Homo sapiens: one gene and its partners. The protein of the gene in region 3 interacts with the protein of the main gene of each other region in a biochemical or structural test. Each region holds a gene or a part of one and is shown on either strand. Other genes may lie near its edges. The genes, in order: KLHL20, DCUN1D4, CUL3 and UBE2E3.

Evidence for each region.
Region 1: the proteins of CUL3 (region 3) and KLHL20 form a complex in vitro, tested with the Homo sapiens proteins (2 studies listed by BioGRID and IntAct).
Region 2: the proteins of CUL3 (region 3) and DCUN1D4 form a complex in vitro, tested with the Homo sapiens proteins (2 studies listed by BioGRID, with this or other methods).
Region 4: the proteins of CUL3 (region 3) and UBE2E3 form a complex in vitro, tested with the Homo sapiens proteins (one study listed by BioGRID).

What each region holds. Positions count from the first base shown.
Region 1 is NC_000001.11:173,780,965-173,787,207, reverse strand, and holds the end of KLHL20 (kelch-like protein 20), read right to left. Parts: intron 5,085-6,243; coding exon 4,978-5,084; intron 2,046-4,977; coding exon 1,961-2,045; 3' UTR 516-1,960; downstream 1-515. UniProt on the Homo sapiens protein: Substrate-specific adapter of a BCR (BTB-CUL3-RBX1) E3 ubiquitin-protein ligase complex involved in interferon response and anterograde Golgi to endosome transport.
Region 2 is NC_000004.12:51,909,139-51,916,169, reverse strand, and holds part of DCUN1D4 (DCN1-like protein 4), read right to left. Parts: intron 7,013-7,031; exon of another isoform or gene 6,718-7,012; intron 5,101-6,717; coding exon 4,996-5,100; intron 2,881-4,995; coding exon 2,778-2,880; intron 2,642-2,777; coding exon 2,586-2,641; 3' UTR 1-2,585. UniProt on the Homo sapiens protein: Contributes to the neddylation of all cullins by transferring NEDD8 from N-terminally acetylated NEDD8-conjugating E2s enzyme to different cullin C-terminal domain-RBX complexes which are necessary for the activation of cullin-RING E3 ubiquitin ligases (CRLs).
Region 3 is NC_000002.12:224,498,340-224,505,370, forward strand, and holds part of CUL3 (cullin-3), read right to left. Parts: intron 5,484-7,031; coding exon 5,313-5,483; intron 4,734-5,312; coding exon 4,626-4,733; intron 2,149-4,625; coding exon 2,024-2,148; intron 1,879-2,023; exon of another isoform or gene 841-1,878; intron 1-840. UniProt on the Homo sapiens protein: Core component of multiple cullin-RING-based BCR (BTB-CUL3-RBX1) E3 ubiquitin-protein ligase complexes which mediate the ubiquitination and subsequent proteasomal degradation of target proteins.
Region 4 is NC_000002.12:181,053,600-181,060,630, forward strand, and holds part of UBE2E3 (ubiquitin-conjugating enzyme E2 E3), read left to right. Parts: intron 1-4,093; coding exon 4,094-4,226; intron 4,227-7,031. UniProt on the Homo sapiens protein: Accepts ubiquitin from the E1 complex and catalyzes its covalent attachment to other proteins. In vitro catalyzes 'Lys-11'- and 'Lys-48'-, as well as 'Lys-63'-linked polyubiquitination.

The DNA of each region.
Region 1 (6,243 bases), on a different chromosome or scaffold from region 3:
TGTTAATGATGTACTACAGTGAGGATCTCATAAAAGTTTTTATACTTTTTACATGTTAATACCAGACTTAATTAAAATACTTAAGGTCTTTTATTATATTTAGTTTCAGGTAAACCTATAGTGGCAGTGTGGCATAGAAAGAGGAATGGACTGGGAATTGAGGAAGCTGATTTCTAATGTTGGTTCTATCATTAATTGACTATTTATTCTTAGGCAGACTTTGTGGTTTTCAGACTTGGATCAGTGTAATAAGTGGGTTTGGACTAGATGATTGTTAAAGAGTCCTTCCAGCTCAAAATTGTATGAGTCTAAGTCCTACCTAGAAAATAAGTTTATAGGTTAGGTAATATAACATATAAAAATATATAATGAAAATTCCTATTAATTCTAGCTGGCAATCCTTTTATTCAAGTTGAAAGCACTTGTAACTTTACATACAGATAAAATAAATTATATAGAAACAGAAATTCCAAATTAAATAACAAAAGTACAAGGATAAAAAGCATTAGCTAAAATTTTTTTAATGGTAAATACTACCTTTATTTAAAAAAGTTATACATGCTAGAAAAAAGCATAAATGATATATGTAAACAATTGTTTACTCAATACTTTTTTTCCTTGAAAAAGGTGCAAATGATCTTTAAATGTAAACACAAAGTTGCCAAACATTTTTGTAGTTGGGGAAAGGGAGAAGGAGGTTATTCCTTTTAAATGCAGTTAGTCTTATTCAAAGATTTTTCTTGCAAAATATATTGAAAAAAATTTGTCTATGAATACAATGAGGAAAAAAAACTTTAACCATTGAAATTATTTTTTCCTTAAAAATTTTTAACTTTTTACCAGAAAGTGCAATTTGAGAGAAGTAGTAACAATGACCTTATAGAATGAAGATAATGATACATTGTTTGTATAAAAGAACCAAGATATTAATAAAATGCCTCAATTGATTTTACACTCTTTAATGTGTGCTATTACATTAACTGAATAATTCATTCCCTTGGAGGCTGTTATTAAAGGTAAGCCTCAGCTTAACCAGGCCTGAGCATCAAGAATAAATTGCATAACAGAATTCACTGCTGGGAGAAGACATTTCTCCCTGCTGGTCCTTGGTAGCAATAAGGAAACAGGAAGGACAGTTGCTTTAGTCAGTAACATTTTTGAGCAAAAACTGTTGCAGAGCTGCATGTGATTCTCTTGGATTCTCAAGACAGCATATGAGACTTATATATTGTTTTTATAAGAGGCACTGAGCAGAGCTCTAGATCTAGCAGAAACTCTATGAGAATATTATGAAAAAAAGACTAAATAAACAAGTTCATATAGAAAGAAACAAGACATAAAATTACACTGATGAAAACTGTAGTGTCTGAGTCCTGGTTTTTATTGATTTAGTATCCCTTCTGAATTGTACTATTTAAAATGAGATGTTGCCTTTTCTTGTTTTTTTGTTTTTTTTTTTTAAGATTTTCAAGTCTTCTGGTGGTTAGTGCGAGAATAATGGGTAGCTAATACATTTTGCATACCTACCTTTATTCCTGGTAATCCTTGTTAGTGGAATCATGTGGATGGAGTGTCTAGAAATAATAGCCAAATCATATATAGCCCTTCTGCCCTTATTAAATAGTATTTTCAAACCTAAATGAATACCTTACAAACAAAGTAAGTTTTGCTGCTTGGAATTTTTTCTTCTTTTCTTTTTTTGTGGGAGGAAGGATAAGTTCAAAACGAAAACAACAAAAAACCATGATAAATTAAAACCAAAAATAAATATTCTTCTGCACAGAGTTGAAAATTATTGTGCATCTTGCAGGTGAAGTACTTTCATTGGATTGTATTTCCATTTGTTGAGGCACCGGCAAATAATAAAATTTGTTCTAATGTTTTCTCAAGCTGTACAAAGCTCCAAGGTCAAAGCTCCCCAGAATACAGAGGAATATATACAAGACTGTCTTCTCTGTGTTCACCAAATATGGGATTCACAATGTGTCATTTTAATAACTCCTACGCCACCCCCTAGCCGACGGTAATTCATCCCGCCATATAACCTGCAAAGAAAGAAACATAATCATATTTTCTAACTGGAAAATATGTTACAACTAAGATGTTATTAACTACGACTAAGATGTTATTAACACGTTTCTATGTTTTATATTACAACTAATATTTTCAGCTTCACACTAATATTGTCTTCATTCTAAAGATTAGAAGCTGCAATTGAGCACTGTTGAGTAGCAGGACTGTTTCAGAGATTGACTGACATGCTCTCACTCATAGGAGGCTGTGTGAAGAATAAGAGAGCATCATATTCACGTTTGGCATCAGAACTTTACAACTGTATACCTCACTGACTTCTAACGGTTACACAGAATTATATATTCTACATTTTCAAAATTTTGCCCCTGGCTATATTATTGTCCCACCTATGTTTTCCCTTTGCCTAAAATTCTTCAATTATTTATTTTTATCCCTTTGTCTTATATGTACTCTGTAAGCCTCTTCAAGTCCTTTATAGAACAAAACCAGATTTGAGTAAAGTCAGCATCTAGTTTGTGACAAGATCATCTTCAAAATTAAGGACTTTCCATGGAGAAGAATACTAGACCCTTATCAGCTATGAGGTAGAGTTGGTTTTTAAGTCTTGGATATGTAACTGCAAATATTTAGTTATTAATCTTTCAACAGATGATCCTCAATAATTTCATGACTATTACTTTGTCATCTATTACTAATTCTATTTAGTGACAGTTACTAAGAAACAAGTCCTCAGATAAGATTATAGTGATTAAGTGACAGTAAATTTGGCTGTCTTCAGAAATTATGCTTAATCAAAATTCCTAGTAAAAATAGAAAGCTGTATATGGAAGAAAATATCCTGCCAGTGAGAGGCCCAAAGCTGCCATTACCTATCCTTTACCGTATTTAGGTTTTGCTAAAATGCTACCTTTCCAATGAGGCCTTCCCTGAACACCTTTAAAAACAGATTCCCCTCCCTGTACTCCCTAGCCCCCTCCCCTGCTTTGATATTTGCCACAGCACTTCCATCTACTGGTATGGTACTGTTTGTCTCCCTCAATACAATTGGTTAGCTCCAGCAGGGCAAGGAACTTTTTTGTTGTTTTGTTTTGTTTTGAGACGGAGTCTTGCTCTTCCACTCAGGCTAGAGTGCAGTGGTGTGATCTCGGCTCACTGCAACCTCCACCTTCTGGGTTCAAGAGATTCTCATGCCTCAGCCTCCCTAGTAGCTGGGATTACAGGCGTGCGCTTGGCAGGAATTTTTGTTGTTGTTGTTCAGTTTTGTATCCCCAGGGCTCGGAGCACTTAGTAAATCTTTTTTTTTTTTTGAGACGGAGTCTTGCTCTGTCACCCAGGCTGCAGTGCAATGGCCCAATCTCTGCTCACTGCAACCTCTGACCCCAGGTTCAAGTGATTCTCCTGCCTCAGCCTCCCAAGTAGCTGGGATTACAGGTGCCCACCCCAATGCCTGGCTAGTTTTTGTATTTTTAGTAGAGACGAGGTTTCATCATGTTGGCCAGGCTGGTCTCGAACTCCTGACCTCAGGTGATCCGCCCACCTTGGTCTCCCAAAGTGCTGAGATTACAGGCATGAGCCACCGTGCCTGGCCATCAATAAATCTTTACTTAATGAACAGGACTGTAAAAATGTGATGTAGGAGCAAAACGTACACGCTGTTATTAGCCTGACTTTAGTTTTGTGACCACTGAGTCATATGGAGCTGTGAGACATATGTAGGATCCAAAGCATGTCACTTAAATCTCTGTGAGAGTTGTGGCTTTCCTAGAGATAGACTATTAGAATACAGTAAGAAAGGACTACAAGACTGCCTCTTTTAGAATAGTAACAATAAAACAGAGCTCAGCTTATCCTTCATGGTCATAAGAAAAATTTCCCAGAATGTCTGCTGCCTCAGCTCACATGTCCAGCCTGATATTTCTGGTTGATGTGCAACCTTAACCACTGAGATGGTAACCCTAAACTTGCTTAGGCAAGTAAGCCCATTTTATTGAGAAGGAAACCCCAAATTGCTTGGAAGGCAAAACTGTTTTCTTAGAAGACTAGTATTTAGAATTAAGTACAGATATGCCATACATCAAACCCATAGTATTGTTATTTTTAAAGTTTGAGAATAAACTATGTGTTTTGCATTTTAAGTTCCTGTAGTGTTTAAGAGAATTTGGCTTTTTAGGGCATCTATAAGATTACTCTTGTGATTCAAGTATAAAATATGATTGAGTAAAGATTTAGACTTAATTATTTTAAGTTTAAAGGTTTAAGAGAATTTTGCTAAGTTTGTAAAGGTTCTTGAATATTTAAAATAAATGCAAAAGTCACCTAATTTATGTGAAATTATAAAAACTACTTAACTACTTAAGAAAGCTTTATTAGACAATTGAGGATTTAAAAGCAAAGTAAAATTAAACCTAGAAATGAAGTTTAAGTTAAGCTCTCTTAAATAAGATGTAGCCTCCTCCCTAAAAGTTAAAATGGCTTTAAAAATGAAATATTATTTTTCAAATATTAATTTTTCAAAAGTAATTGCAATTTGTTTCTCCTAGGCATAGGTTTCCCACAAGAACACCAAAAAATGGCATGGACAGATTTGGAGCCAAAGACCTAGGTTCTAATTCTAACTCTGTCACTAACTCACTTAGGCAGGTCATTTTATTTCTCGGTGCTTTTGTTTCCTCAGCTGAACATGATGGGACTAGGAAGATTTTTTTTCCCTATTTTACCCATCTCTAATTATAAAACTGGACAGTTACTGAAAAGGAGAATTTTGTAATATATCAGCCACTTTAGAGCAATCAAGTCAAAATGAGCCATAAATATGTGTAACTTCAGCCCTCTTCAAAGTACTCCAATGTACTGACCATCCCAGTTCTGATGGTCATAGGCTATTTCAAGCCCATGATTTCCAAATCAGTAGTGAGGTGATTTGCTACACAGCTTAAAAGTTACCTCCATGTATTGGCATCAGGATCAAAAACTTCTATGGTCTTCAAGTATGTTGTGCCATCAAAACCTCCTACTGCCATGAGCTGTCCATTGACCACTGCCAGGCCAACCTACAAAACCAAAATACAGTAAGCTGCTGAAGAAACTAGACAATCGTAAGGAAATTATAGACTGGTTTCTAGATAAATCTATTTACAAAAGATAATTCTTTATGGCCTTACATTCTGGTTTACTGAAACACAGGGAAAATGTAACAACAAAAGTCTATCAAATTATGGGAACTATAAAATTATATATTCAATTAGAATATTCACACAGAATCCAAAACATGTATTTCTTAAATTTTAGAAAAACTGTTCACTAGAAGTGAGCAAACAACCTCCAAACTGCTCTCACTTCCTCTGGTATTTGCCTGCTCTAATCTTTCTAATTGCTAGTAAAATTCTCTTTTAAAAATACAAATCTAGGCCAGGCATGGTACCTCATGCCTGTAATCCCAGCACTTTGGGAAGGCCCAGGTGGGAGCATCACTTGAAGCCTGGAGTTCAAGACCAGCTTGGGCAACACAGTGAGACCCCTATCTCTACAAAAATAAAGTAAAACAGAAAAATATAAATCTAATCATATTGTCACTTTCCTCTAAAAACTTTCTCACTTTGGGAGGCTGAGGTCGGTGGATCGCTTGAGCCCAGGAGTTCGAGACAGGCCTGGGCAACACAGTGAGACCCTGTCTTTACAAAAAATACAAAAATTAGCTGGGTGTGGTGGGGCATACCTGTAGTCCCGGCTACTTGGAAGGCTGAGGCAGGAGGACTGCTTGAGCCTGAAAGGTCGAGGTTGCAGTGAGCTGAGATTGTGTACACTGCACTCCAGCCTGGGCAGCAGAGTGGGACCCTCTCAAAAAAATCTCCTAAAACCAAAACAACTTTCTAAGCCTCCCTACTATTTAAGGGTAAGTTTTAAAGTCCTTATTATGTTACTCAGGCCCTCCAGAAATCTATCTTAGCCCACTATTTAAGCCTCACCTCTTATAGTTTCCCTTTACTCCTAACTAATGAATCCTATTGCTGCAGTAAAACTGGATTAACTGCTAGTCCCTGAAGATAACATACATTTTTCACACCTCCACACTTTTGCACATGTTCCCTGGCTGGTGTTTTCTTCTCCCCTCCCCTCCCCCACCTCCCTCCCTCCTCCCTCCTCTCTCTCTCTCCCTCTCCCTCTTTCCCTCTCTCTCTCTCACTCACAGGGTCTCGCTCTGTCACTCAG
Region 2 (7,031 bases), on a different chromosome or scaffold from region 3:
ACACAATAGAAAAAGAGAAAGGGTTGTAGACTTAGGTACTAAAGAAAACCCAGATGAAGGCACCCTAATTTATTCAACATTAGCCAGTAAATAAGTGCTTGATGATTGTTCAGTTTTGTGCAACTTAGAGAAGTTTTTAAGAAAATGTATCATATTACTCTGTCTGACCCCTTTTTCTCCCCTTAGAAATAAATATATAAAATCAAGACAATCAAGGGTAAGCACTCTGCCGCTCAGCAGTCAAAGAGGTTTATTTTTCAAGGCAGTTTAAAGATTATTTGGAGTTTTCTTAATATGCAAGATTATCCCTTTGGAATACTTACTTTCTTATCATACATAATGCAATAGTTTTTACGCAGTTTTTTCCCTACCATCAAAATGTTGATTGTGGATTAACTGTAACATCTCCCTCCTGTAACAATCCTCTCATTTTAGAATTAACTGTGCTTATCAGCATTTTTTAAAAATCTCTATATTCTAACATAGTGTTTAAAATAACTTCATCTATGATTTATATTTGCTTTAAATAAAGCTACAGTTGATCAGATTTAAAGAACTGTATGACCTGTTGCCTTTAAAGTGTAACTTTTTAACTTTATGGAATAATTTTGAAAATGAATCAATTCTTCACAGATCCAAACCTGCCTAGGCCAGTCACCACTGCAAAACAAATGCATCCATCACATCAGTATTAATAGCTGTTGCTTGCCATTAACATTTCCTGTTCTTTTCAGATATTGGTTTATGCAAACTGGTATTAATTTTTAAGGTTGAAAGTGAATCTACAAATAAGGAGTGGTTAAGTATGCTTAATCACTACAGGGTTTTTTAAACTTCTGGTTTATTTCACAGCAAATAAAACCTTTCGTTTGGTAGAAAAAGAAAGTAGTTGCATTCTACTATATCATGATTTTGTATACACACACACTGTATATACATACAAAATTTCTTTCTTTGGTGGTTTAGTTAGGGAAAAAATATGAAAATGTGAACACTGTTTGCAAAGAAATGGTAAAATAGTGGTCAAGAGTAGCACTGTCTGTGTGCTTTATTCACTTAATGCCATTTAAACGATCACATGTCACCCGAAAGAAGTTTTAGCCAGAGTTCCAAATAACCCAAACCTTTTTCCAGTCATCACATGTTCAAATCACGGATCTTGCTGACCACGACAGCATTTACTTGTTCAAATGCACCATTACCTTTTACTCACTCAAATCATTAGACTTTTGTGTTTTCACAGAACTTTAGGGACTGAATTAGTCATTCAATAGCACCAGATAGTTGGGGTGAAAACATGTCATCTCTATATTTCCTCAAGAATGGCAAAAAAAAAAAAAAAAAAAGACATAAAATACAAACCTAAAAATACCATTCTGTTTATTCTTGTTTCCTCATCCACAAAAATAATGGCTATTGCCCTTCTGTACAAATAACTCAGGTAATGAAAAGTGGCCCCTCTAGGACAGGTCCTAGCATGTACTGGGTTAGCTCAATGCTGGTGGTTTCTTGTCCACTGCCTGCAATGGACATGCTGCCAGGAAAAGCCTAGCATGAAACAAACAAACAAGGAAAACAAAACAGCTCTCACTTATAGTATGCTTGTTTTCTCAAAAGGCTGGAAAATTACATACCATGAAAGCTTAACTGAAAATTCAAGCCACAACTAGAAGTGCGATGCAGTTATAAACAGCCAGCAAAACCATGAGGTTTTCATTGAGGAGGTGAAATAAATTTTACTTAGAGTGGCAAAGAAAGCATTAGCAGATCAATCACTGGCTAGAAGAATGCAAAAGGAAAAAAAGAGAACAAACAAACAAAAAAGTTAAAGAATGTTTATAAGAGTTTAAATCCCATTCTTTTAAGAAAAGAGGTGCAATTTGAATTTGTTCATTGGTACCTATATTCAAGCTATTATAGTTTTAACACTAAAAAATAAACAACTTATACACCTTGCATGGTAGAAATGATTTGTGGCATGTTACATATCTATATGTTCAAATAATTATAACTCATCATTTTAAAACACTAATATTGTTAAGTATACCAAATGATATTTGGCATATGCCTCTAAAAAGTTATGACTCCTACCTCCTTCCAGAAGTTGGCCTCTTAAACAGTAAGGTTAATTCTGGCAATGTTTGTTCATGGTAACAGTTTTCTCTTGTTTTCTGAAATGCTACATAGGAGACCAAATAAAGTATAATTGGTTCATTCAAAAAAAGGGACTAGAAATGCCACAAAATTATTTTTACAATACATTTTTCAGAAATAATCTCTAGGTGAACCTTTTTCCTTTTATACACATATACAAAATTTAAACAGCAATATACACATAATCACAGTGAGGACGTTGGCAAATTCACCAATCTGTAGTGTAAATACAAACTGCAAAGCAGCCTTCCAAGAGAACAATGCCACACAGCAAGCAGAGCTGGCCAATTCAATAGCAAACACCAACATGTCCCTGCGAAAGGGAAACAGTGCAAGAGAAGCAGCATGCGCTTTGATACAAACAGCAATTTATGGCTAATGGGTGACAAAACTGTGGTAACAGTGACTCTCTCGCTGCTATGCATAAAGTCCTAGGACATCTGTTTGTCTTTATACCACTCCACAAACTCGTCCAACAAAACTGGCCCTGGAGAGAAAGAGAGAAACAGTAGTAATAATAATAATAATAACAATAATAATAATAGTAATGTAGCTGAGGCTTTTCCCAATGAGGATGATATAGAAATGTACACGAATGGCAGAATGGTAGCGGCAGTACTTACATGCTCCATCTTCATCATAGTTGCTGAGGTCAAGATTAATTGTTCTGCTAAACTCTAGGACATTGCACCACTGGTCTTTATTAATAACTTTGTATTTTGATTGCTGATGGAGGGAAAAGTAATATGAATTACTGACACTTAAAATGAACAAATGGGACGGTTTCAATTGCTTTATGAATCAACTTAATTAAGTTCATGTAAGGTTAACTCTTTCTGTTTGAGGTTTGTTAAGCACCAATCTAGGAGGATGGTGAGGGAGAGCAAGAGTAGAATTTAAGATGACAATTGTCATTACAAAAATATGACAGGGTCTCAATACAAAATGGAAAGCACATCAAAATAACATGATTATATATCCCCAGAAGTGAAAATTCTAAACTGCAAAAGCCATTTTATATAAAATGCAGATAATATCTACTTCATAAAGATATTATAAGAATTAAAAGAGATCATTTACTAATTTATGTGAAGCACTTCATTCAGTGTTTGGCACAAAGTAAGTGCTAAATAAAGAGTAGCTCCCATTAATATAACCCCTGACATAACCAGCACTGCCCATGGCCAAGCCTTCGGCTTAAAGCACATGCAGCAGCAGGTTACTTGACGAGATCCGGTAAGTGCTGCAAGTGGTCTCAAAATTAGGTGTTCTTGTCACAGAAAAAAATTACTGTTCTAATAATTCAAAACTCGAATCTGATCATAAAAGAAGCTAGAATAGCTGTGAAATCGTTTTTCTATTCCTCTTAGACGAGAAATTTGCCATGTGTCTATTTAAAAATACAGTATCCCTGTATGAAGATTCATAAATAAAATCCAGAACCAATGATTTTTAAATCTTCCCCACTAAAATCAGAAACATAGTAAAACAATACAAGTACATAAAAAGCAAAGAGAGTTGAGTCAATGGTTTTGAGGATGCAAACACAAGAAAAGCTGAAATGAGAGGAATACTGTCTTTTTTAAAGAAAAATGCAAACTAATGTAAGAGAGAGAACAAAGCACAGACTACAAGTTTAACTTTCTAAGCAGGTAAAAGCAAAAACCAGTCCTGAAACAGTTGATGATGCACCTGGAATTACACAAAGTCAGATTTCCTCCAGGCCAGGTCTTCCAGCTTAAGACTCTTTACACACAGGTGTAAATCCAGCTAAACTCTCTGAGAACAGGGAACTATTTCTATTTATTTTTCCAAATAATGCTAACTCATCTCAAGGGATTGTCAGAGAAATTAGAACAGACCATATGTCAACATGGACTATTTTGGGTAAACAGATACTTACGTAAAACTAGTTTTTAAATTTTTGAGGAGTCCCACTTAGTAATGTTAAAAGAAATTTTTAATAACAGTTCTCAAAGAATCCTATCAGATATTAAAAATATTCTGGACCATTACATAAAGTAAGTTGTGAGAAAGATTATTCAAGAGTGAAGCCAGAGTCATCTTACGGCCCAGCATTTTCTCAAAGACCCAACACCCTCATCCTTGCAAGCAAAGGACACTTTTTAGAAGGGCTTGGGGCAGGAGGGAAAGGAGGATGCCATATATGACAACCCAAGTAACTCAAACTTGTATCCCATATACTTCCAGGTCCCACAGAATGACACTTCAACAAAACCAGTAGCTCAGAATTTCTGATCATCAATACTTAAAAGCACACAAACAATGATGGAATAAAGTGCTGGATTGTTCTGATACTGATCTGAAGACAATTTAAACTGAAGGAGATATTGTCAGTCTGCCTAATACTTAGATTGATCTAAGGTCCTCAAGTTACTTGGTGACAAGAGTAGATAAGAACATACTACAAACTAATTTTGGTAAGAAGGCAGATGACTGTCTTTTAAACCTCTGCTTAATAAAAGTGGAAGTTCATCTAAAGTCAAAAGAAAGTAAATCTTCTTTTTCTATTGTTACAAAGAACAGAAAATCTAAACAAAAGTGAAGCTTTAAAATGGGGATGAGAAAAGAGAGAAAAGGACAGAGCTGTGGCTGTTTCGGATGCATTTTTAATGTGGAATGAAGCAACACAACATTAAACGCATACACAGATGCACTCCAAGAAGATAGGTAGCTGCTGACTGACAGCAATTATGTCACCGTAATTCCTACATAGGCAGAAAAGTACAACAAACAAAAAATTACATACAACGGGTGAATAAAGTTATTTGGTAGTTCCAAGCAAGCAAACATACATTTCATAAAACAACAATTTGGTACCTCTAAGAATTGGTGAAAAACTGGAAAAAGGGGCCAGATTTTTCCTAATAACAGTCCCAACATGCACTTGGCAGTGTTTATGTCTAGGCTGCGCTGGTCCTTTTCCTGTTTAACAAACAAAAACAAGGATGAGCCAGATGCCCCCAAATAATAAATTCCAATAATTGCAAATGTGTATTCACTTCAACAGGAAATTAGTAAACAGCTCATTTATCATACACCTTAAAGACCCTGCATCCAGACTAAGGTTAGGGAGGGGAGGTAGTCAAACACAATGGAAGGCTTGGGCATTACGATATTATATAAATTTACTGTGAGAAAGATTTATGTCAACTGAATGATCACCCTAATGCAAAATCAATTAGTTATGTCGTAGCAGTTTCTACAGGCTTTTCATGGGATTAATAAAAACTTGTAACTCAATCACTTGCTTGTTTGATATTTATGATAATTATCAAAATCCTAATTGTTGACCATAAAGCCTATAACTCAACGGAGCTTAAAGGTTTTGATGCCTATGATTAGGAATCAGGTTTCCTTAATAAAAACGAAATCAATTTGATTTCATTGATAAATATTTTTCTTGAACCTAAACATGCTGGAATTGACTTCAGCTCATACCAAATGCTGGGGCTCTGAAGTGTCTCTCTAAATCAGAGGATAGATTCATCTACCCACTCTGGTGGAAGGCAGGAAGTCTATCAATACAGTCCTTCAATAGACAGATAGATAGATAGATTTCTTAGACGTAAATTTCCTAGTAAAATACTCCTAACTAGTAACCAAGTGAAAGACAACATTTCATAAGGACACCAGAAAAAAAGATAAGAACATAAACCTAAATAAGGGCAGGGTAAGCTCATTCCACTTACATTTGCAATTAAGGATCCTAATTTCTCATTTCCGTCTTTCTTATATGCTTCCATTCCAGAACTACAAGCGGTCAGTTTCCATGGAAAGGAATAGAGGGCCTGGGACCATAAGCATACCTTACATATCCAAAGCTAGCCTCCATGTGTTATCTTAACTACAGTGGAAATTTGTAAAAGTAGTTTTTTACAAAGGGAGAAAGTGCCTGGCTAGCCCAGTGCAGTGGAATCTAAATGTTCAAATTAAGGGATGATGCTGTGACCACCACCCTAAGCCACATATGCAGCCATATATACCTCCTGATAAAATAAATCATCACTGCAAGGACGCTTAACAGTGAGGTACTCTTTAGTATACAAACCATTTCTAGCCATGACCCTGAATTGGGACTTAATACAGCAAATGTAAGGGCCTCACTTAACAACAACAATCAAGGTAGATGAAGACAAGGAAACTTGTTGCCTAAGGAAGATGTGCAATAGATCTGGCCTTTTGGTCTCAGTTGTGAAGTGTAACGACTGTCCATGAATAGACCAGGTCAGATGGCTCCACATCACCCTTCTTTCAGAGGTCACATAACTTAAGTCTGATGAGGGCAGGTGTATCCCAGTTCCACAGTTCTATGCAAACAGGTGGGACCTCCTTTCCACAGGGTTCTCTGCCTGTCCCTTGGCCATATGTATTGTCCTGCTCAGGGCTGCAGTACGCACTCCCAATGGAGAAGAGGACAGGAGAAGAGGTGATCTAGAGACTGCCTGCCTTTTGCCAGACAAACTGCATTGGTTTGTTGTGTTTCAAGGGCTTACACTTCTGTGATGACACTGTGCAAGCAAATGGAAAACTTCCTCTTACCCTGTAACACAGGTGTGGCAGACGGCAACAGCACACCATACTATGAAGCAATCCACAAGATAAACGAGTAAACTGTTGAGAAACACACGCGGCACCACAGGACTCGGCCAAAGTCCATTTGTTGAACAACAGCTTATGCAGCACTGGGCTGACAACACTGGCGCTCTGGAAGAGTTTTCCCTTTGCAGAGTTTGTAATCATTCACTAAACCCCAAATCTCTAGTCTTGCTGTGATATATATTGTGCCTTCTTCCACCATCATCAATACCTATGTCCCCGTCACAATGGACATACACTAAGGTGACAAAAAAGAA
Region 3 (7,031 bases):
TTCAAAACTGGTAGTTTTTCTTGAATTTTTATATTTATGTTTTTTGTCACTATCCACACCATATTTTTTCCAAAGCCTGAGCCACTCTGTGGTTCTTGCCCCAATATAACAATCATCCCTTCACTCTTAGAATTCCTTTTCCCTTGTCATTTTGCCTTTCTACAGTTTATAAAAAATGAGGACTTTGGGGAGGGAAAAAACCCAACATTTCTGTGAACTCGAGACTATAGGCAGTGCCTAAACCAGTAGGATCAGGCAAATAAAACTAGTTGGACAGCAGACATATCATGAACTCTTGCAACAGCGTGTTATCTGTGTGCATGTCTAAAGTGTTATACTGATTCACTATTACAATAAGGATCATGCAGTTGACCAGGGTGAAGCAGGACTGTCTACAGGATTATGTGAATTGTGGTGGTGGAGACAGTATACAAGATTAATGGATTAAAACCTAGCTGCTTTCCTGGAAAATGGCCTATGTTCTAAAAGACAAAATCTAGTTTTTATTTTTTTAATTTATGAAGCTACAAGTCAATAATATGCTAGTGCTTCTGGTTCAAAATGAAAGCAACTGGCTATGGTAATGTAGAGAAGACAGCAGGAATAGCACCAGAATGTTCGAGGCTTTTTAAGTTAAATTCTTAGTTACTTCACCTTACAAAGATACATGTCAATATGCTGAATACTCAACAAAGATCCAGGATATGGGCTATTTAAAAATACGTATCTCCTGGATCAGCACCAAAAATATCTTTAGTTTCTGTACAACCCACGTCAAGTTTTTAAGTGTAGGCAAGTCGAAATTATTTCTGATACAAATCACAAACTCCACAGAAATCATTCAAGATATATTCAAACAACTTTCAAATACATTTTGACATCAAGGTCAGGCAATTCACCTGGAAGAACATCTTAATAAGTACCAATGAATTTTTTGTAGTAAGATGTTTGATGTCAACCTTTTACTATGGGAATATTTTACATCTCACACAAAGAAGGCACTGGTACTTGGACACTTAAGACAATTACTAGAATCATTAAGACTAAGGTGAAGAATTTGTACAGTGCCTTCCACAATTTCAAAGAGGTCGTGACAGATACTTGTCCTCCTGGCAATATCAAATACAGTTTCTTCCCAGTTGTTTTTTCAGATCTGGTTTGAGGTTAACAGTTCACCAGTAGATGTTCTAGAGTAGCTCTGCTGTCTCTGATCCCAGCAGCAAGATGCAAGTGGGTCAAGAGACCTTTTGTTTGGTCACTGATAACTAATCTACACCATGCTGAAGAAATAAAGAAGCCACTCTGGTATTATTCCACTTATAAGCACCCTGCAGGGGTGTCCAGCTATCTACGGTCACTGCAAAAACTTCTGCCCCTTGTGCAATCAGCTCACAGACAATGTCTAAGTGTCCACCTTAGGCTGCTCGATGAAGGGGGTGATACACTCATCTTCATCCCTAGTGTTCACACGAGTGGTCTTTTCACAAAGCAGTCTCCACACTGGATAAGCCAATTATTTTCAGCAGCCCAAAAAAAATATTTGCTTGGATCTTTCTCTGTTTTTTTCTTGCATATCACTCTTGTTTTTTTTTCATCTTGCTCCTCTTCCTCATCAAAACTGCCATCTCAGAGACTCTGAGTACTAGTGGGAATAAGGTATCCACGTATTTCCAACAATTGGAGTTAGCTGAAGTGTTCAGAAAAGTCCAAGGAATTCTCTGGGTCTAGTTTTCCATCATCATTTACTTTCTCTTTTTCCATTTTTACTGCTGCTCTAAATAAAAGGCATTTCAAATGCCAGCATATAAACAATCTTTCTAGAGATAAATTATGCCTGCTTTACTTTACTCATCAAGATCCTATAGAGGGGGAAATTGCTGTATGCCAGGATAAATGCTCCTTTTGATCACGAGGTAATAAATGGAATACATTCATCCTCAATTACGGATACTAATGTTCAAATTCATTTTTAATTTTGAACACTTACTTGTACACAGTGATACAAAGTCTGATTTTGATTTACCTTCTGAATATCTCAAAAGCATGTCTTGGTGCTGGTGGGATGTTGCACTTTGGTGTGGCTGACTGAGTGGGCCAATATCCTGTCGTGAGCACCCGGACTGTAAGATCAACACCACCTAAAGATACCTATGTAAAACAGAAAGAGATATTCCCCTCAAAATTAACTAGGATTTGCTTTCTGTTCTGTTTAGACATTGTGTTAGATTTACCAAAGCAGTTAGCTCCATGTCTAATATCTAATTTAAAAAAAAGCAGATTTTCTTTTCTTTTTTTTTTTTTTTTTGAGACAGAGTTTCGCTCGTTGCCCAGGCCGGAATGCAATGGCACGATCTCGGCTCACTGCAACCTCCGCCTCCCAGGTTCAAACGATTCTCCTGCCTCAGCTTCCCGAGTAGCTGGGATTACAGGCATGCCCACCACGCCTGGCTGATTTTGTATTTTTAGTAGAGACGGGGTTTCTCCATGTTGGTCAGGCTGGTCTCGAACTCCTGACCTCAGATGATCTGCCCGTCTCAGCCTCCCAAAGTGCTGGGACTATAGGCGTGAGACATCGCACCCGGCAAAAAAACAGATTTCCTTAAAGGTTAGACCCACCCAGTGTTTCCCAAATTTTAACTACATGGCAAATAGCTTAATTATTGCTTATTATGTTAATTTAAAAACACTGACCAAAGAATAGTTTTTGGCACATAAATCAAGTCTTACTGTTATCACTGAGAACTGAAAAGTTTGGGCCTTTTTAAATAAAAGGTCAAGGAGGGTCAATTATATCATTTTAGAGAAAATTCTAGCATAATATCCTTCGTCTCAGTTTTAAAATATTTTTACTATCTTAATACATATTTCTAATATTCCAGCACCTATTTCAACTACAGTTAATTAAAACTTTTACGTTTTAGCATGTAGCTCACATTCTAACAACCTCTGCATACAGATCCAGTGCTATAACACTATAGATCCAGTGCTACAGAGCAGGTGCTCTACAAATATCTGTACAATGAATAACTACTTCTATGCTAGTATCAACTGTCACAATTATTTTCTTCCTTTAAACAAATTAAATTTTTAAGTAAACAACAATAAGGCACAACAAAAACTCTTAAAGATTAAATATTATTTCTATTATTGATATTCAGGATGTGTTATAAACCATCATTCCATTTTTATCTTACCTCAATGATTTAGTAATGTAAATTTTTAAGGGGAGGAATCAGTTTATGAATATCAAGAAGCATTCTACACTCCGATTTCTTCACAAGTATCCACTAAATGATTACTTAACTTTAAGGAAACTGAAAATAAACTTGGATGATGCACAGAAGAGAGGATCATAGAGGAGACTCTTAGATGGTGTACTGGGGGAGGTGGAGAACTGTTTATACATTCGCAAGTTGGTTAGGGGAAGGGAGGGTCACAAAGTGGACAGTCCATCCATCCCATATCAATATGCATGGGATCTAGCCCAATCTTCCCTATAGCTTTCAATGTGTAAGATTAGTGGAAGAAAAAAATTTAAAAACTTACTAGAGCAAACAAAAAAATACAAGAAAATATATCAATATATTAGATTTAACTATAAATTCCTAAACAATCTAAAAATAAAAATCCAGGATAATTACACCACTATTTCCTGTCCACCCGAAATTTCTGTCATGGACTTGCATCTTTCCTCCTCTCAGCTCTTCTCCACTGTAAACACTGATATTTATAAAGCAAATCATACAACTATTTACATTAGAGTCAGAATGTTTTCATAGAAATGAATGGTTATTCTACAGAATTACGTATTTTCACGTATCTGGTTTGCGAGACTATAAGGCCAGTAGAAGTGATGATCTCATATTTAGATACCAAAGGAAAAGACTCACAAATCTGTTAAATGGTTGTGACACATTTTAACCATAGAGTGGTACACGGTGATTTTAAAAATTTAAAAACTGTACAATTCTCTAAACTTAAGGTTAAGTTGAAAATCAGAGTAAAAAATGAAACTAAATTCTGAATTTCATTAAATGCTCATAAAACTCCCATCAGACTCCAAAGCTAAAGAAGTTCCAGCTCACCACCTTTGGGGAGTTATACCAAACACATTTATAATACATTAATTTCTGTGTTTTTATAGTCTCACTTCACCTGCTACGCACCCTTAGGATGTAAGTCCCATTTAAGCTAAACTTACAGAGGAGAATAATAGTAGTGAGGTATAGGAAGGTCAGGTGACTATCCCAAGATGACACAATCTTGGGGTAAAGTGAAAAGAAGAGTACTGAAACTCAGTAAACTTGTGTTAAGCCCAGTACTCTTTCCACAATTTATAATAGATTTGTATTATCTTTATTAACAACAGAATAATTCTCTTTATTAAATTGTCAGTGTATTCCTTCAAGTGGGAAGAAACAACTAAATTTTAAAAGAATAAAAAGTTTTAACATAAACACAGAATAAGAGGCAATGTGAAGGAAAATTAAGTACTCACAGATAAAACACATGTTGTCACTAATGACATTTAAAGAAACAACTGTCATCTGCTAAGTGGATGAAAATATACCCATTACAAAAGACTTTACATGAATATCTAAGTAGAAATTAACGCAGAATCTTACACCAGTTGCCTGTAGATGTTGCCTGAATTCATCCATCGTTGTGTTTGAGATGCTCATATCCCTAAACATTCCTTCCAGTTTTGACGTGAACTGACATCCACATTCAGTCTGTGGAGGAAAAACACAAATATACACAAATAAATGGTAGATGTTTCTATGAGAAAGTACAGAAAGAAATAAATTATTTCATGTTATTGCTATCCCTGATAATCTTCCTGTAAATTTTTCCAACAGTTGCTCTGTGCCTGTGGTTATCAAACTTTAGGATTTTAAAATGCAAATTCCCAGATTCTTTCAGAGATTCCAATATACCCCCATGAAAGGCAGGGCCCAGAACTGTTTTTAACTAGCATCTCAGGTGATTCACGTGCAAGTATTCTATGGACCACACTTTGTGAAAAAGAACTACACAGCATAGCCTCTTTATTGTTTCCCTTTTACTAATCCTCCCTTCCAGGCCTCCATGAATGTATCCTGACACACCAACAGAAATTCCAGCAAACTCTGAATGTCCCTGAACTTGAACAAATGTTAGTGTAGTCTGTGTTCTTCTCCAAAACAATCTACCTTTATTTCTAGAAATAAACACTTAATAATCTACCAAATTAATTTCCAATCACGTTGTCAGTACACAATCATAATAAACCTCAGTTAGGTGCACTCTATTTCATCTAAAACACACCTTACCTTTAACTTAGATATCATGTTTTTTTCAGAGTCATCAGAAACACTTTTATTTGTGAGAAGTCTCCTTGCCAAGTGTTGTTTATAATAACGTTCAAATACATCTTTTTCTTGCATAAACCTAAAAAGGACCATTGCTTTATCCAATATTGTTTCTACTTCTTGTTCTGTTAGCTGCAAAATTAAGATGATGTAACAATTATACAATTTTAGTTCTACAAAAGCAGTACTACGGTTCATTTACAGCTTAAAAACACTATTGTTTGAAAACATAGATATCTGGTTGACATACATCAAAAAAAGGGATACGGTTTGAGAAAGTGTCTCCTACTTCACACAGTAGCATCATTCTTACATTCTCATTTAGTGCATCATGAATGAGGGGTTGGAGTGGAATTCTATTCCGTAGAGGGCTACCACTGAATTGGAGGCATAAGGTAATATAGCGCTGGGTTAAGGGATGATTGAGAACAGATGAAATGAAATTTTAGTCACAGAGATTATTTTATGAAGCCTTTGCATATGCAGGCAAAAACTTACACAGCCAAAAGACGGAATTTTTCATTTAAGCTCACTGAAAGCCTCAACTGTGCAAACAAAAGGCAATAATTTGTTATAATCCAAACAGTAAAAAGGCCATTGCCCTTACTTTATTTTTTTATTTCTATTTTTTTTTTCTTTTGAGACGGAGTTTCACTCGTTGCCCAGGCTGGAGCGCAATGGCGCCATCTCGGCTCACCGCAACCTCTGCTTCCCGGGTTCAAGCAATTCTCCTGCCTCAGCCTCCCGAGTAGCTGGGATTAGACATGCACCACCACACCCGGCTAATTTTGTATTTTTAGTAGAGATGGGTTTCCTCCATATTGGTCAGGCTGGTCTTGAACTCCCAACCTCAGGTGATCCGCCGCCTTTGCCTCCCAAAGTGCTGGGATTACAAGCGTGAGCCACTGTGCCTGGCTGCCCTTACTTTTAAATAAGGGCAAAAGGATTCTGTGGCAGGTTGTATTAATATATTTGAAAAACGGAAGACCAAATGAATGCATAAATTAATAGACTTTTCTATTCTGTGCAACCTTAGTGATTTTGTTCCCTTATTGCAGCTACTGCCTGTAAAACCTGTGACGACATGTTGCTTTTCCCTTTGGTGTCACAAATTCCAAAATGAAGTCAAAAGAGACCAATTCAGATGTGAGCATGTTTTATGCTTCAGTTGATTTTCTATGCTGTCGTGAGCTCCTCAGGTTCCAGAGATATCATATATCACAAAGGCTTGAAATTGAGCTACACCAACCATTTTCTGAGATGAGATCTACTCTATCTATGCCTTAATATTCTTGGCATCCAATTATTGTTTGACATATAACCTTCAGAACCAGATGAGAGCAAACAACACTCTCTACTAGAAAGTTTTCTAGTTCTTTATCTTCAGCATGCCTAACTCTCAGTCATAAAAATGACTGTTTACCAACTACAGCTGTGTAGTTGTTCAGTTTTTTTTTTTTTTTTGAGACGGAGTTTCGCTATTGTTGCCCCAGCTGGAGTGCAGTGGCGTCATCTTGGCTCACTGCAACCTCCGCCTCCTGGGTTCAAGTGATTCTCCTGCCTCAGCCTCCTGAGTAGCTGGGATTACAGGCATCCACCACCATGCCCAGCTAATTTTGTATTTTTAGTAGAGATGGGGTTTCACCAAGTTGGTCAGGCTGGTCTCAAACTCCCAACCTC
Region 4 (7,031 bases), about 43 Mb from region 3:
TCTCTGCCCCTGCACAGACACACAACCACCCCTGCTATTATTGTCCCACACTACAGTGGTATAGTTGTTACATTCCAATCGATAAACCTACATTAACACATCATTATCATGCAAAGTCCCTAGTTTTCATATGGGTTCACTCTTGATGTTGTACATTTTATGGATTTTTACACATATATAGTGACATATCCGCCATTCATACCATACAGAAAAGTTCACTCCCTTACAGATCCTCCGTGCTGTGCCTCTTCATCCCTTCCACCCCACTAACCCCTGGCAACCACTGATATTTTTACTGTTTCTGTAGTTTTGCCTCCAGAATGTCATATAGATGGAGTCATACAGTATGTAGCCTTTTCATATTGGGTTCTCCCACTTACTAATATGCATTTAAGTTTCATCCATATCTTTTCATGGCTTGATAGCTCATTTCTTTTTAGCACCGAATAATATTTCGTTGTCTGGAGGTACCACAGTTTATATATCCATTCACCTACTGAAGTAACATCTTGATCACCTTCAAGATTTGGCAGTTATGAATCAAGCTGCTATTCACATCTGCATGCAGAATTTTGTGTGGACATAAGTTTTCAGTTCATTTGAGTAAATACCCAGGAGTGTGATTACTGGATCTTATGGTAAGATATGTTTATGTTTGTAACAAGATTGCCAAACTGTCTTCCAAAGTGGACATCCAGATGCATAAAAATGAATCTAGATATTTTGCATTTCCTGTACCATTTTGTATTCTCCACTAGCAATGGATGAGAGTTCCTGTTACTCCACATTTTCTTCAGCATTTGTTGTTGGTGTTTTGGATTTGGGCCATTCTAATAGGTGTGTAGTGGCATGCTTTTCTTGTTTTAACTTGAAATTCCCTAATGACATGAGTTTGAACAGTTTTTCATACGCTTACTTGCCATCTGTTTATCTTTGGTGTGAGGTATCTGTTCAGGTATTTCACCCATTTTATAATCAGGTTGTTCATTTTCTTTAGTTTTAATGGTTCATCGTATATTTTTGATAACAGTTCTTTATCAGGTACATCTTTTGCAAATATTTTCTCCAAGACTGTTGCCTGCCTTGTTCTCTTGACATTGTCTTGCAGAGCAAAAAAAATCTAGGCTGCAGTTACAGATTTGGAAGTTAAGAGCATATTGGTGGTATTGGGAGCCGTAAAACTGCATAAGATAACCAAAACAGTATATGTAGGTAGAAAAGAGAAGAGTGTAAGGTCTTAGCTCTGGAGGACTGGTGATATTTAAAGCTTAGGGTGATAAGGAATAGGAATAGAGAGTGAGAACGAGGGGCCAGGAAATGTAGGAAAGCTAACAAAGTATGTTATTCTAGGAATGAAAGAGAAAGTGTATCAAGGAGGATGTGATTGGCTGTGTCAAATGTTGCTGGACCAGTCAAATAATATGAAGATTGAGAAATGATCATTGGGTGTAGTGATGAGGTCATTGGTGACTTTGGATAAGAGCTGTTTCAGTGGAGTAATGGGAGGAAATGCCTGTTGGGAATGAGTTCAAGTAACAACAGAGGAGAGAAACTGAAGATAGCAGATGTAGATAAGATTTCCAAGGAGTTTTGCTGTCAAGGAAAGATGATTGAGATGGAAACTCGAAGGGAGAGAGAAATAGAGATTTTAAAAAATAATAATAAAGTTGGGAGAAAGGGCATTGTTGGATTCTTATTGGCATCACTCACCAGAGAAGGAAAAATGGATGATGATTCAAGACAGTGGAAGAGACAGAGAGTGTCGGTCAGTTGCTAGCCTCTAATATGATTTGTTTAAATTACAGTGGACTCAGCCCTGCAACTGCTCATGTCCCTTCCTGACCCCTTCCCATCTTGCCGTATGTTTTGACTAACAGATGGTACATTTATGAGAATGAAAAGAGGCCCCTAATCCAGACAGGTAGCCAACACTACCTGGATTTTAGGACTGGATTTTAGCCTTCACTTGTCCTAAACTAGGTGTCTTTGGGTACAGCAAAGTAATCATACTACCATAGCTTCTCTGCTTAGTCTACTCCAAGACAATAGGAAAAGTTATTTACTATCCTGCAATAGTTAAATGTACACTTTGTCCTATAGTTAAATGTACACTTTGTCCGATGGCAAATAGCATGATAAGTGGGAAGAGAGCACATTTAAGAACTAAGAATTTGGTGTGGGAATCCAAGCTCTTCTATCAACTGGCAGTAAAATATATTTGAGGAGAGTTTAAGGCGTATGAGTCGTCTTACCAACAAGTAATTATGAGTTTAGATTTTATTTGAACTATCTCTCTTGTTTGTATTTTATAAAGTAATGGTGTGTTAAGCGCAGTGCACCAAAATGTAACTAAGACTTAGTAGCACCTAGGACTCAGATCTTGGTTTTTCTTACAACATTCGCACTGAAAGGAACCCTGGCTCTTTGGAAAAATGTTTGATTCCAAGGATGGGATTCCTTATGCCAAAGGAAGGAAATGCTTAAAAAAAAAAAAAAAAAAGATGCTAACATGTTGCAAGGATATAGGAGTCATTTTGAAAGGGTTCCCCATCAGCCAAATCTGCAATAATTTGGGTATCAAAATAATTAAAGTCAGTAATGACTTATAAAGCATTGGGAAAAAATGAGACCATACCAGTAATACTTCTGTACATACGTACAGGCAGGAGAAGAGGCTCAAGGGGTAACTGTTAAGTGTAGAGAAAGTTCTAGAATTGGAAAATCATGATTTTATTGCTGTAACAGAATACCTGAGACTGAGTAGGTTATAAGGAAAAGAGGTTTATTTGGTTCACCTGATGGGCATCTGCATCTGTTGAGGGCCTCAGGCTGCTTCAACTCACAGTGGAAAGGCAGGCATCAAGTGCAAAGAGATCACAAAGCAAGAGGAAGCAAGAGAGAGAAACCAAGGAAAGCCACTCTTTTTAACAATGAGTTCTCTTGGGAACTAATTCATTCTTGCTAGAGTGAGGACTCACCCCTGAGGGAGGGCATTAATTTATTCATGAGGGATCTACCCCTCTGACCCAGACACTTCCCAACATTGCCGCGTTTGGGGGTCAGATTTCAACTTGAGTTTTAGCAGGGACAGATCAAACCATAGCAATCACAAATGGATGCTAAATCTTGGGAAGAAATTTTGATAAGAAGCAGGATATTTGCCTGGTCTTGAAGTGTCTGTCCAAATATTGCTTATTGGTTGCAGGGAAAAGATAGTAACTAAGCAGTAGGAAAATTGGATAGCAGTTTGTCTGGATGATGAAACTTAACATCACCAATGAGGTACAGGTAGGTGCTGTGTGCCTCCAAATGTGATACCATGAGAAGGACACATACTATTTCAGCCAGACACCTACTATTTCAGCCAGAAATGCGTTACATGAATCAAATCATGAGGAAACATGGCAAGCTCAAAATGATGAGCATTTTTTAAAAAAGAAGACTAGATTCTGCAAAAAACGTTAATGTTATAAAAGTTAAAGAAAGGCGGAAAGGACCCATATTAAAGGAGAATAAAGACACAGGAAATAACGTGGTTCCAAGACTGGGTCCTGCATCGGAGAAAAATTAATTTTTTAAAAGGGTATTACCGAATCAGTTGACAACATTATAATACAAATTGTACTTTAAAGAATTGTATTAATGTATTTACTGAAATTGTAACTGTATTGTAATTTATAGGAGATTGTTTTTAGGAAATGCACACTGACATGTTTATGGGGAAAAGGCCGTGTGCAACTTTCAGGTGACTCAGAAAAAAGTATGTCTCTATGCATGCTTGCAGGTTTAGAGGGGTGTGTGTTTCGGGAGAGAGAGGAGCAAATGGGGCAGAGCAGAATGCTAATGGAGACTGGGTAAAGTTATACCAATTTTCTTTGTACTTTTCTTGCATTTCCTCTGTAAGTTTGTAATATTTCCAAGTAAGTTCATACACACATGCACATGCAAACACATTGGGGCTTATTTCTTTTATACTTATTTTACTTCTTATTGCTCTAGATTGCTAATTTACCTTTAACACTTCCCTGGTTTTAGGATATTAACATTCATTGCTAATATATGTACATACTGATTTTTAATTTCTTTTAAATAGTGCTGGGCCTAAAGGAGATAACATTTATGAATGGAGATCAACTATACTTGGTCCACCGGGTTCTGTATATGAAGGTGGTGTGTTTTTTCTGGATATCACATTTTCATCAGATTATCCATTTAAGCCACCAAAGGTAAGAAGCTTGAAGTGCATTCTTTAGTATTTAATCCTTCTCCTCTAAAATCGGTTATTCTAGAACTTAAATGTGTATTGATGCAGTTATTTTGATTTCATTGCTTTTCATGGATTGATATGGAAATTTTCGCATAATCAAGAATTTTAAAACAGTAATTGACTCCTTTCACAAATAATTTGTAATAAACAGAAAGAGTTTAATTCTTAATTGTAAATAAAACTATACCTTGCACATCAATAAAGCAGATAAATTTTATGCTTATGAGGGAGAAGATCCTATGAACCTTCATTAATACCTTAATTAATAATACCTTAATTAACTATTAAGGTATTAATGAAGGTATTAGGATAAAAAGTAAAACTGTTTGACAGCTTCCAGAAATAAGGGTTTAATAATGTGAATTTTGTGCTGAATACCTTTATAGATAAGCAAAAACTTCATAGCCAAGAAGAGGGAAACTAATAATATTTAGTAAACTCATTTTGTACCTTCTGTGGGTATGATGTAGTAGTGGAAGCAGAATGCCTGAGTTTTGTTGGCTCTGAGTTCATTTGAAGTATGAATTAGATGGATAACAGAGAACGGGGTGAGTTGTGCCTTCTAATGACCATCAACTTTGCAAAGCTTAAATATAACAATTACTTGAATGGCTCCCTCCGCTAACTTCTGTTTCTACAATGGTCAAGTCAGCAGGTAAAAACCACTGGAATTAAGCATGAGCATTATTATGCTGTTGTTACAGAGATGTCTGACATAGCAGGGGAAAGTGTATTTTCAAGTCCATAGCCCTTAACTATGGTGAAATGTTTTTCTTTTCCAACATGGTGACTTTTGTTCTCTGTACTTTTAAAAATTTATGTTGCAGTCTATACCATTTAAAATTTATGTAGCCTGTGTGTATATGTATATGTGCACATAAACGGATTTATTTTGTGAATAAAAGAGGGTTATTTCTCAGTAACTTATTGTCTAACAAGGTAACGAGTGCCATCTAGTGGTATTTACCCCAAACCGCAGACACCATTTACTCTCAATTACAGCTGTTAGTGTTTAAAGTGCTTTACCGTGTGGTCCCATCAGCATGTAAGATCTTGAAATTATTTTTGCATATGGGGAAGATTAATTGAAGAAAAAGACTCTTAAGTTTTCCTGGACACCTTTTAATGAAAAACAGAAATTGGCTAATATAAGAATTTCACACTATATAGTACTGTATATGATTTGCCGTAATTTTGATGAATATAATGATTATAAATTTAGCATGTTGGTTTTTTGCTGAAATTGCAATATATCATCTAATTCTTTAGTGTTCACTCTGTTGCTGAGATATACAGTATTAACCATTAAGATCTATAGTTGGACAAATGAAAAATAAGATTTCTGGTATAATCTTGGTATTTGGAACAATTATTTCTCTGCAATGCTAAATCTTTTTGAAGTTTGGAAAAGTTGAGCTTCTTGAAGGATAATAAATATTTAATAGAAATCTGCTCATGAATGCTATTCTGTTCACTAGTTATAGCTGAAAATATATTTGTAAATCACATATGTATTGAGCAGTAACGTCAGTGATCTGAACATAAATTATTTCTATATTCTAGAGCAGCATTAATGGAAATATAGTAAAATCTACATGTATAATTTTAAATTTTCTAATAGCCACATAAAACATAAAACAATTTTAATACTATATTAGTTAACCCAACATATTAAAAATATTGTCATTTCAACATGTAATCCGTGTAAGAGTATTGTTAATGAAATCTTACACATTTTCTTTTTGGTACTAACTCTTTGAAATCTGGTATTTATTTTACACTTCTAGTTCGTCTCAATTCACCTTGCCACAATTTAAGAGCTGTATATGCACATGTAACTAGTATATGCTGTATTGGTCAGAGCAGTTCTAGAGGGGCATACTCTCCTCCTCCCCCACTAAACTAGTGTGTTGGTCCCCTACCCCCTCCCTGTCATGCATTCTTTTCAGGAAGACACTTTTGAGAGCATTTAATGTTTTCCTCCCAGATTCAACTTTTGCGCTCACAGTACACTGCTAGTTTTCAAATGATCAGAAATTTTTTTTTTTCTCGGCAACTCCAATTATGAATTAGCTATCCAATTAGTGTTTGTGATTGTTTTGAGACTTGGCAGTGTTTGTTCTTATGATTTATCTTCTTTTCTCACACATTTCAGGGATATATTAGTTTCCTTTATCCAGTAGCTAAAAACCTTGTTTATTTTATTTTAATATTTTAGCCTAACAAGACAGTGAACCAGCTGTAGAAATAAAAGGCTAAGAAACAGAAAGGCAGGTAGTGTGAATGATTTTACCAACCGTCTTCTAAATCCTCCAGTATTTTCTAACGTTTGGTAAGAAATTAGCTGAATTGATACTGATCTTTTCTAGTAAGAAACTGATGTAACTTTTATGTTTTAAAAAAAAATCTTCATCAGTTCCTCTTACCTTCGGCACCAAAACATTTCTTTTCTTCCTCACTTTCTGTCTTTCTGTATGTATGTGTACACACACAGTTGTATATGCTGTGGATGTGTATGCAAACAGACGTACCCACACACATAGATGGAATTACTGTATCAGTTATTTAAGTATAACTGATCAGTTCCTCACTTTAGTTCTTTCTATACAGGGTAAAAACAAAAAATTTTTTTCAACTGAGTCAAAAGCATTTAATTTTGTTATTAAACCTAATCTAAGTTTAGCTCCAGTCAAATAATTTAGTATCATCTATGATATATTACCCTTCATTTTTTTTTAGTGTTTTAATTGGTAATACAGCATTC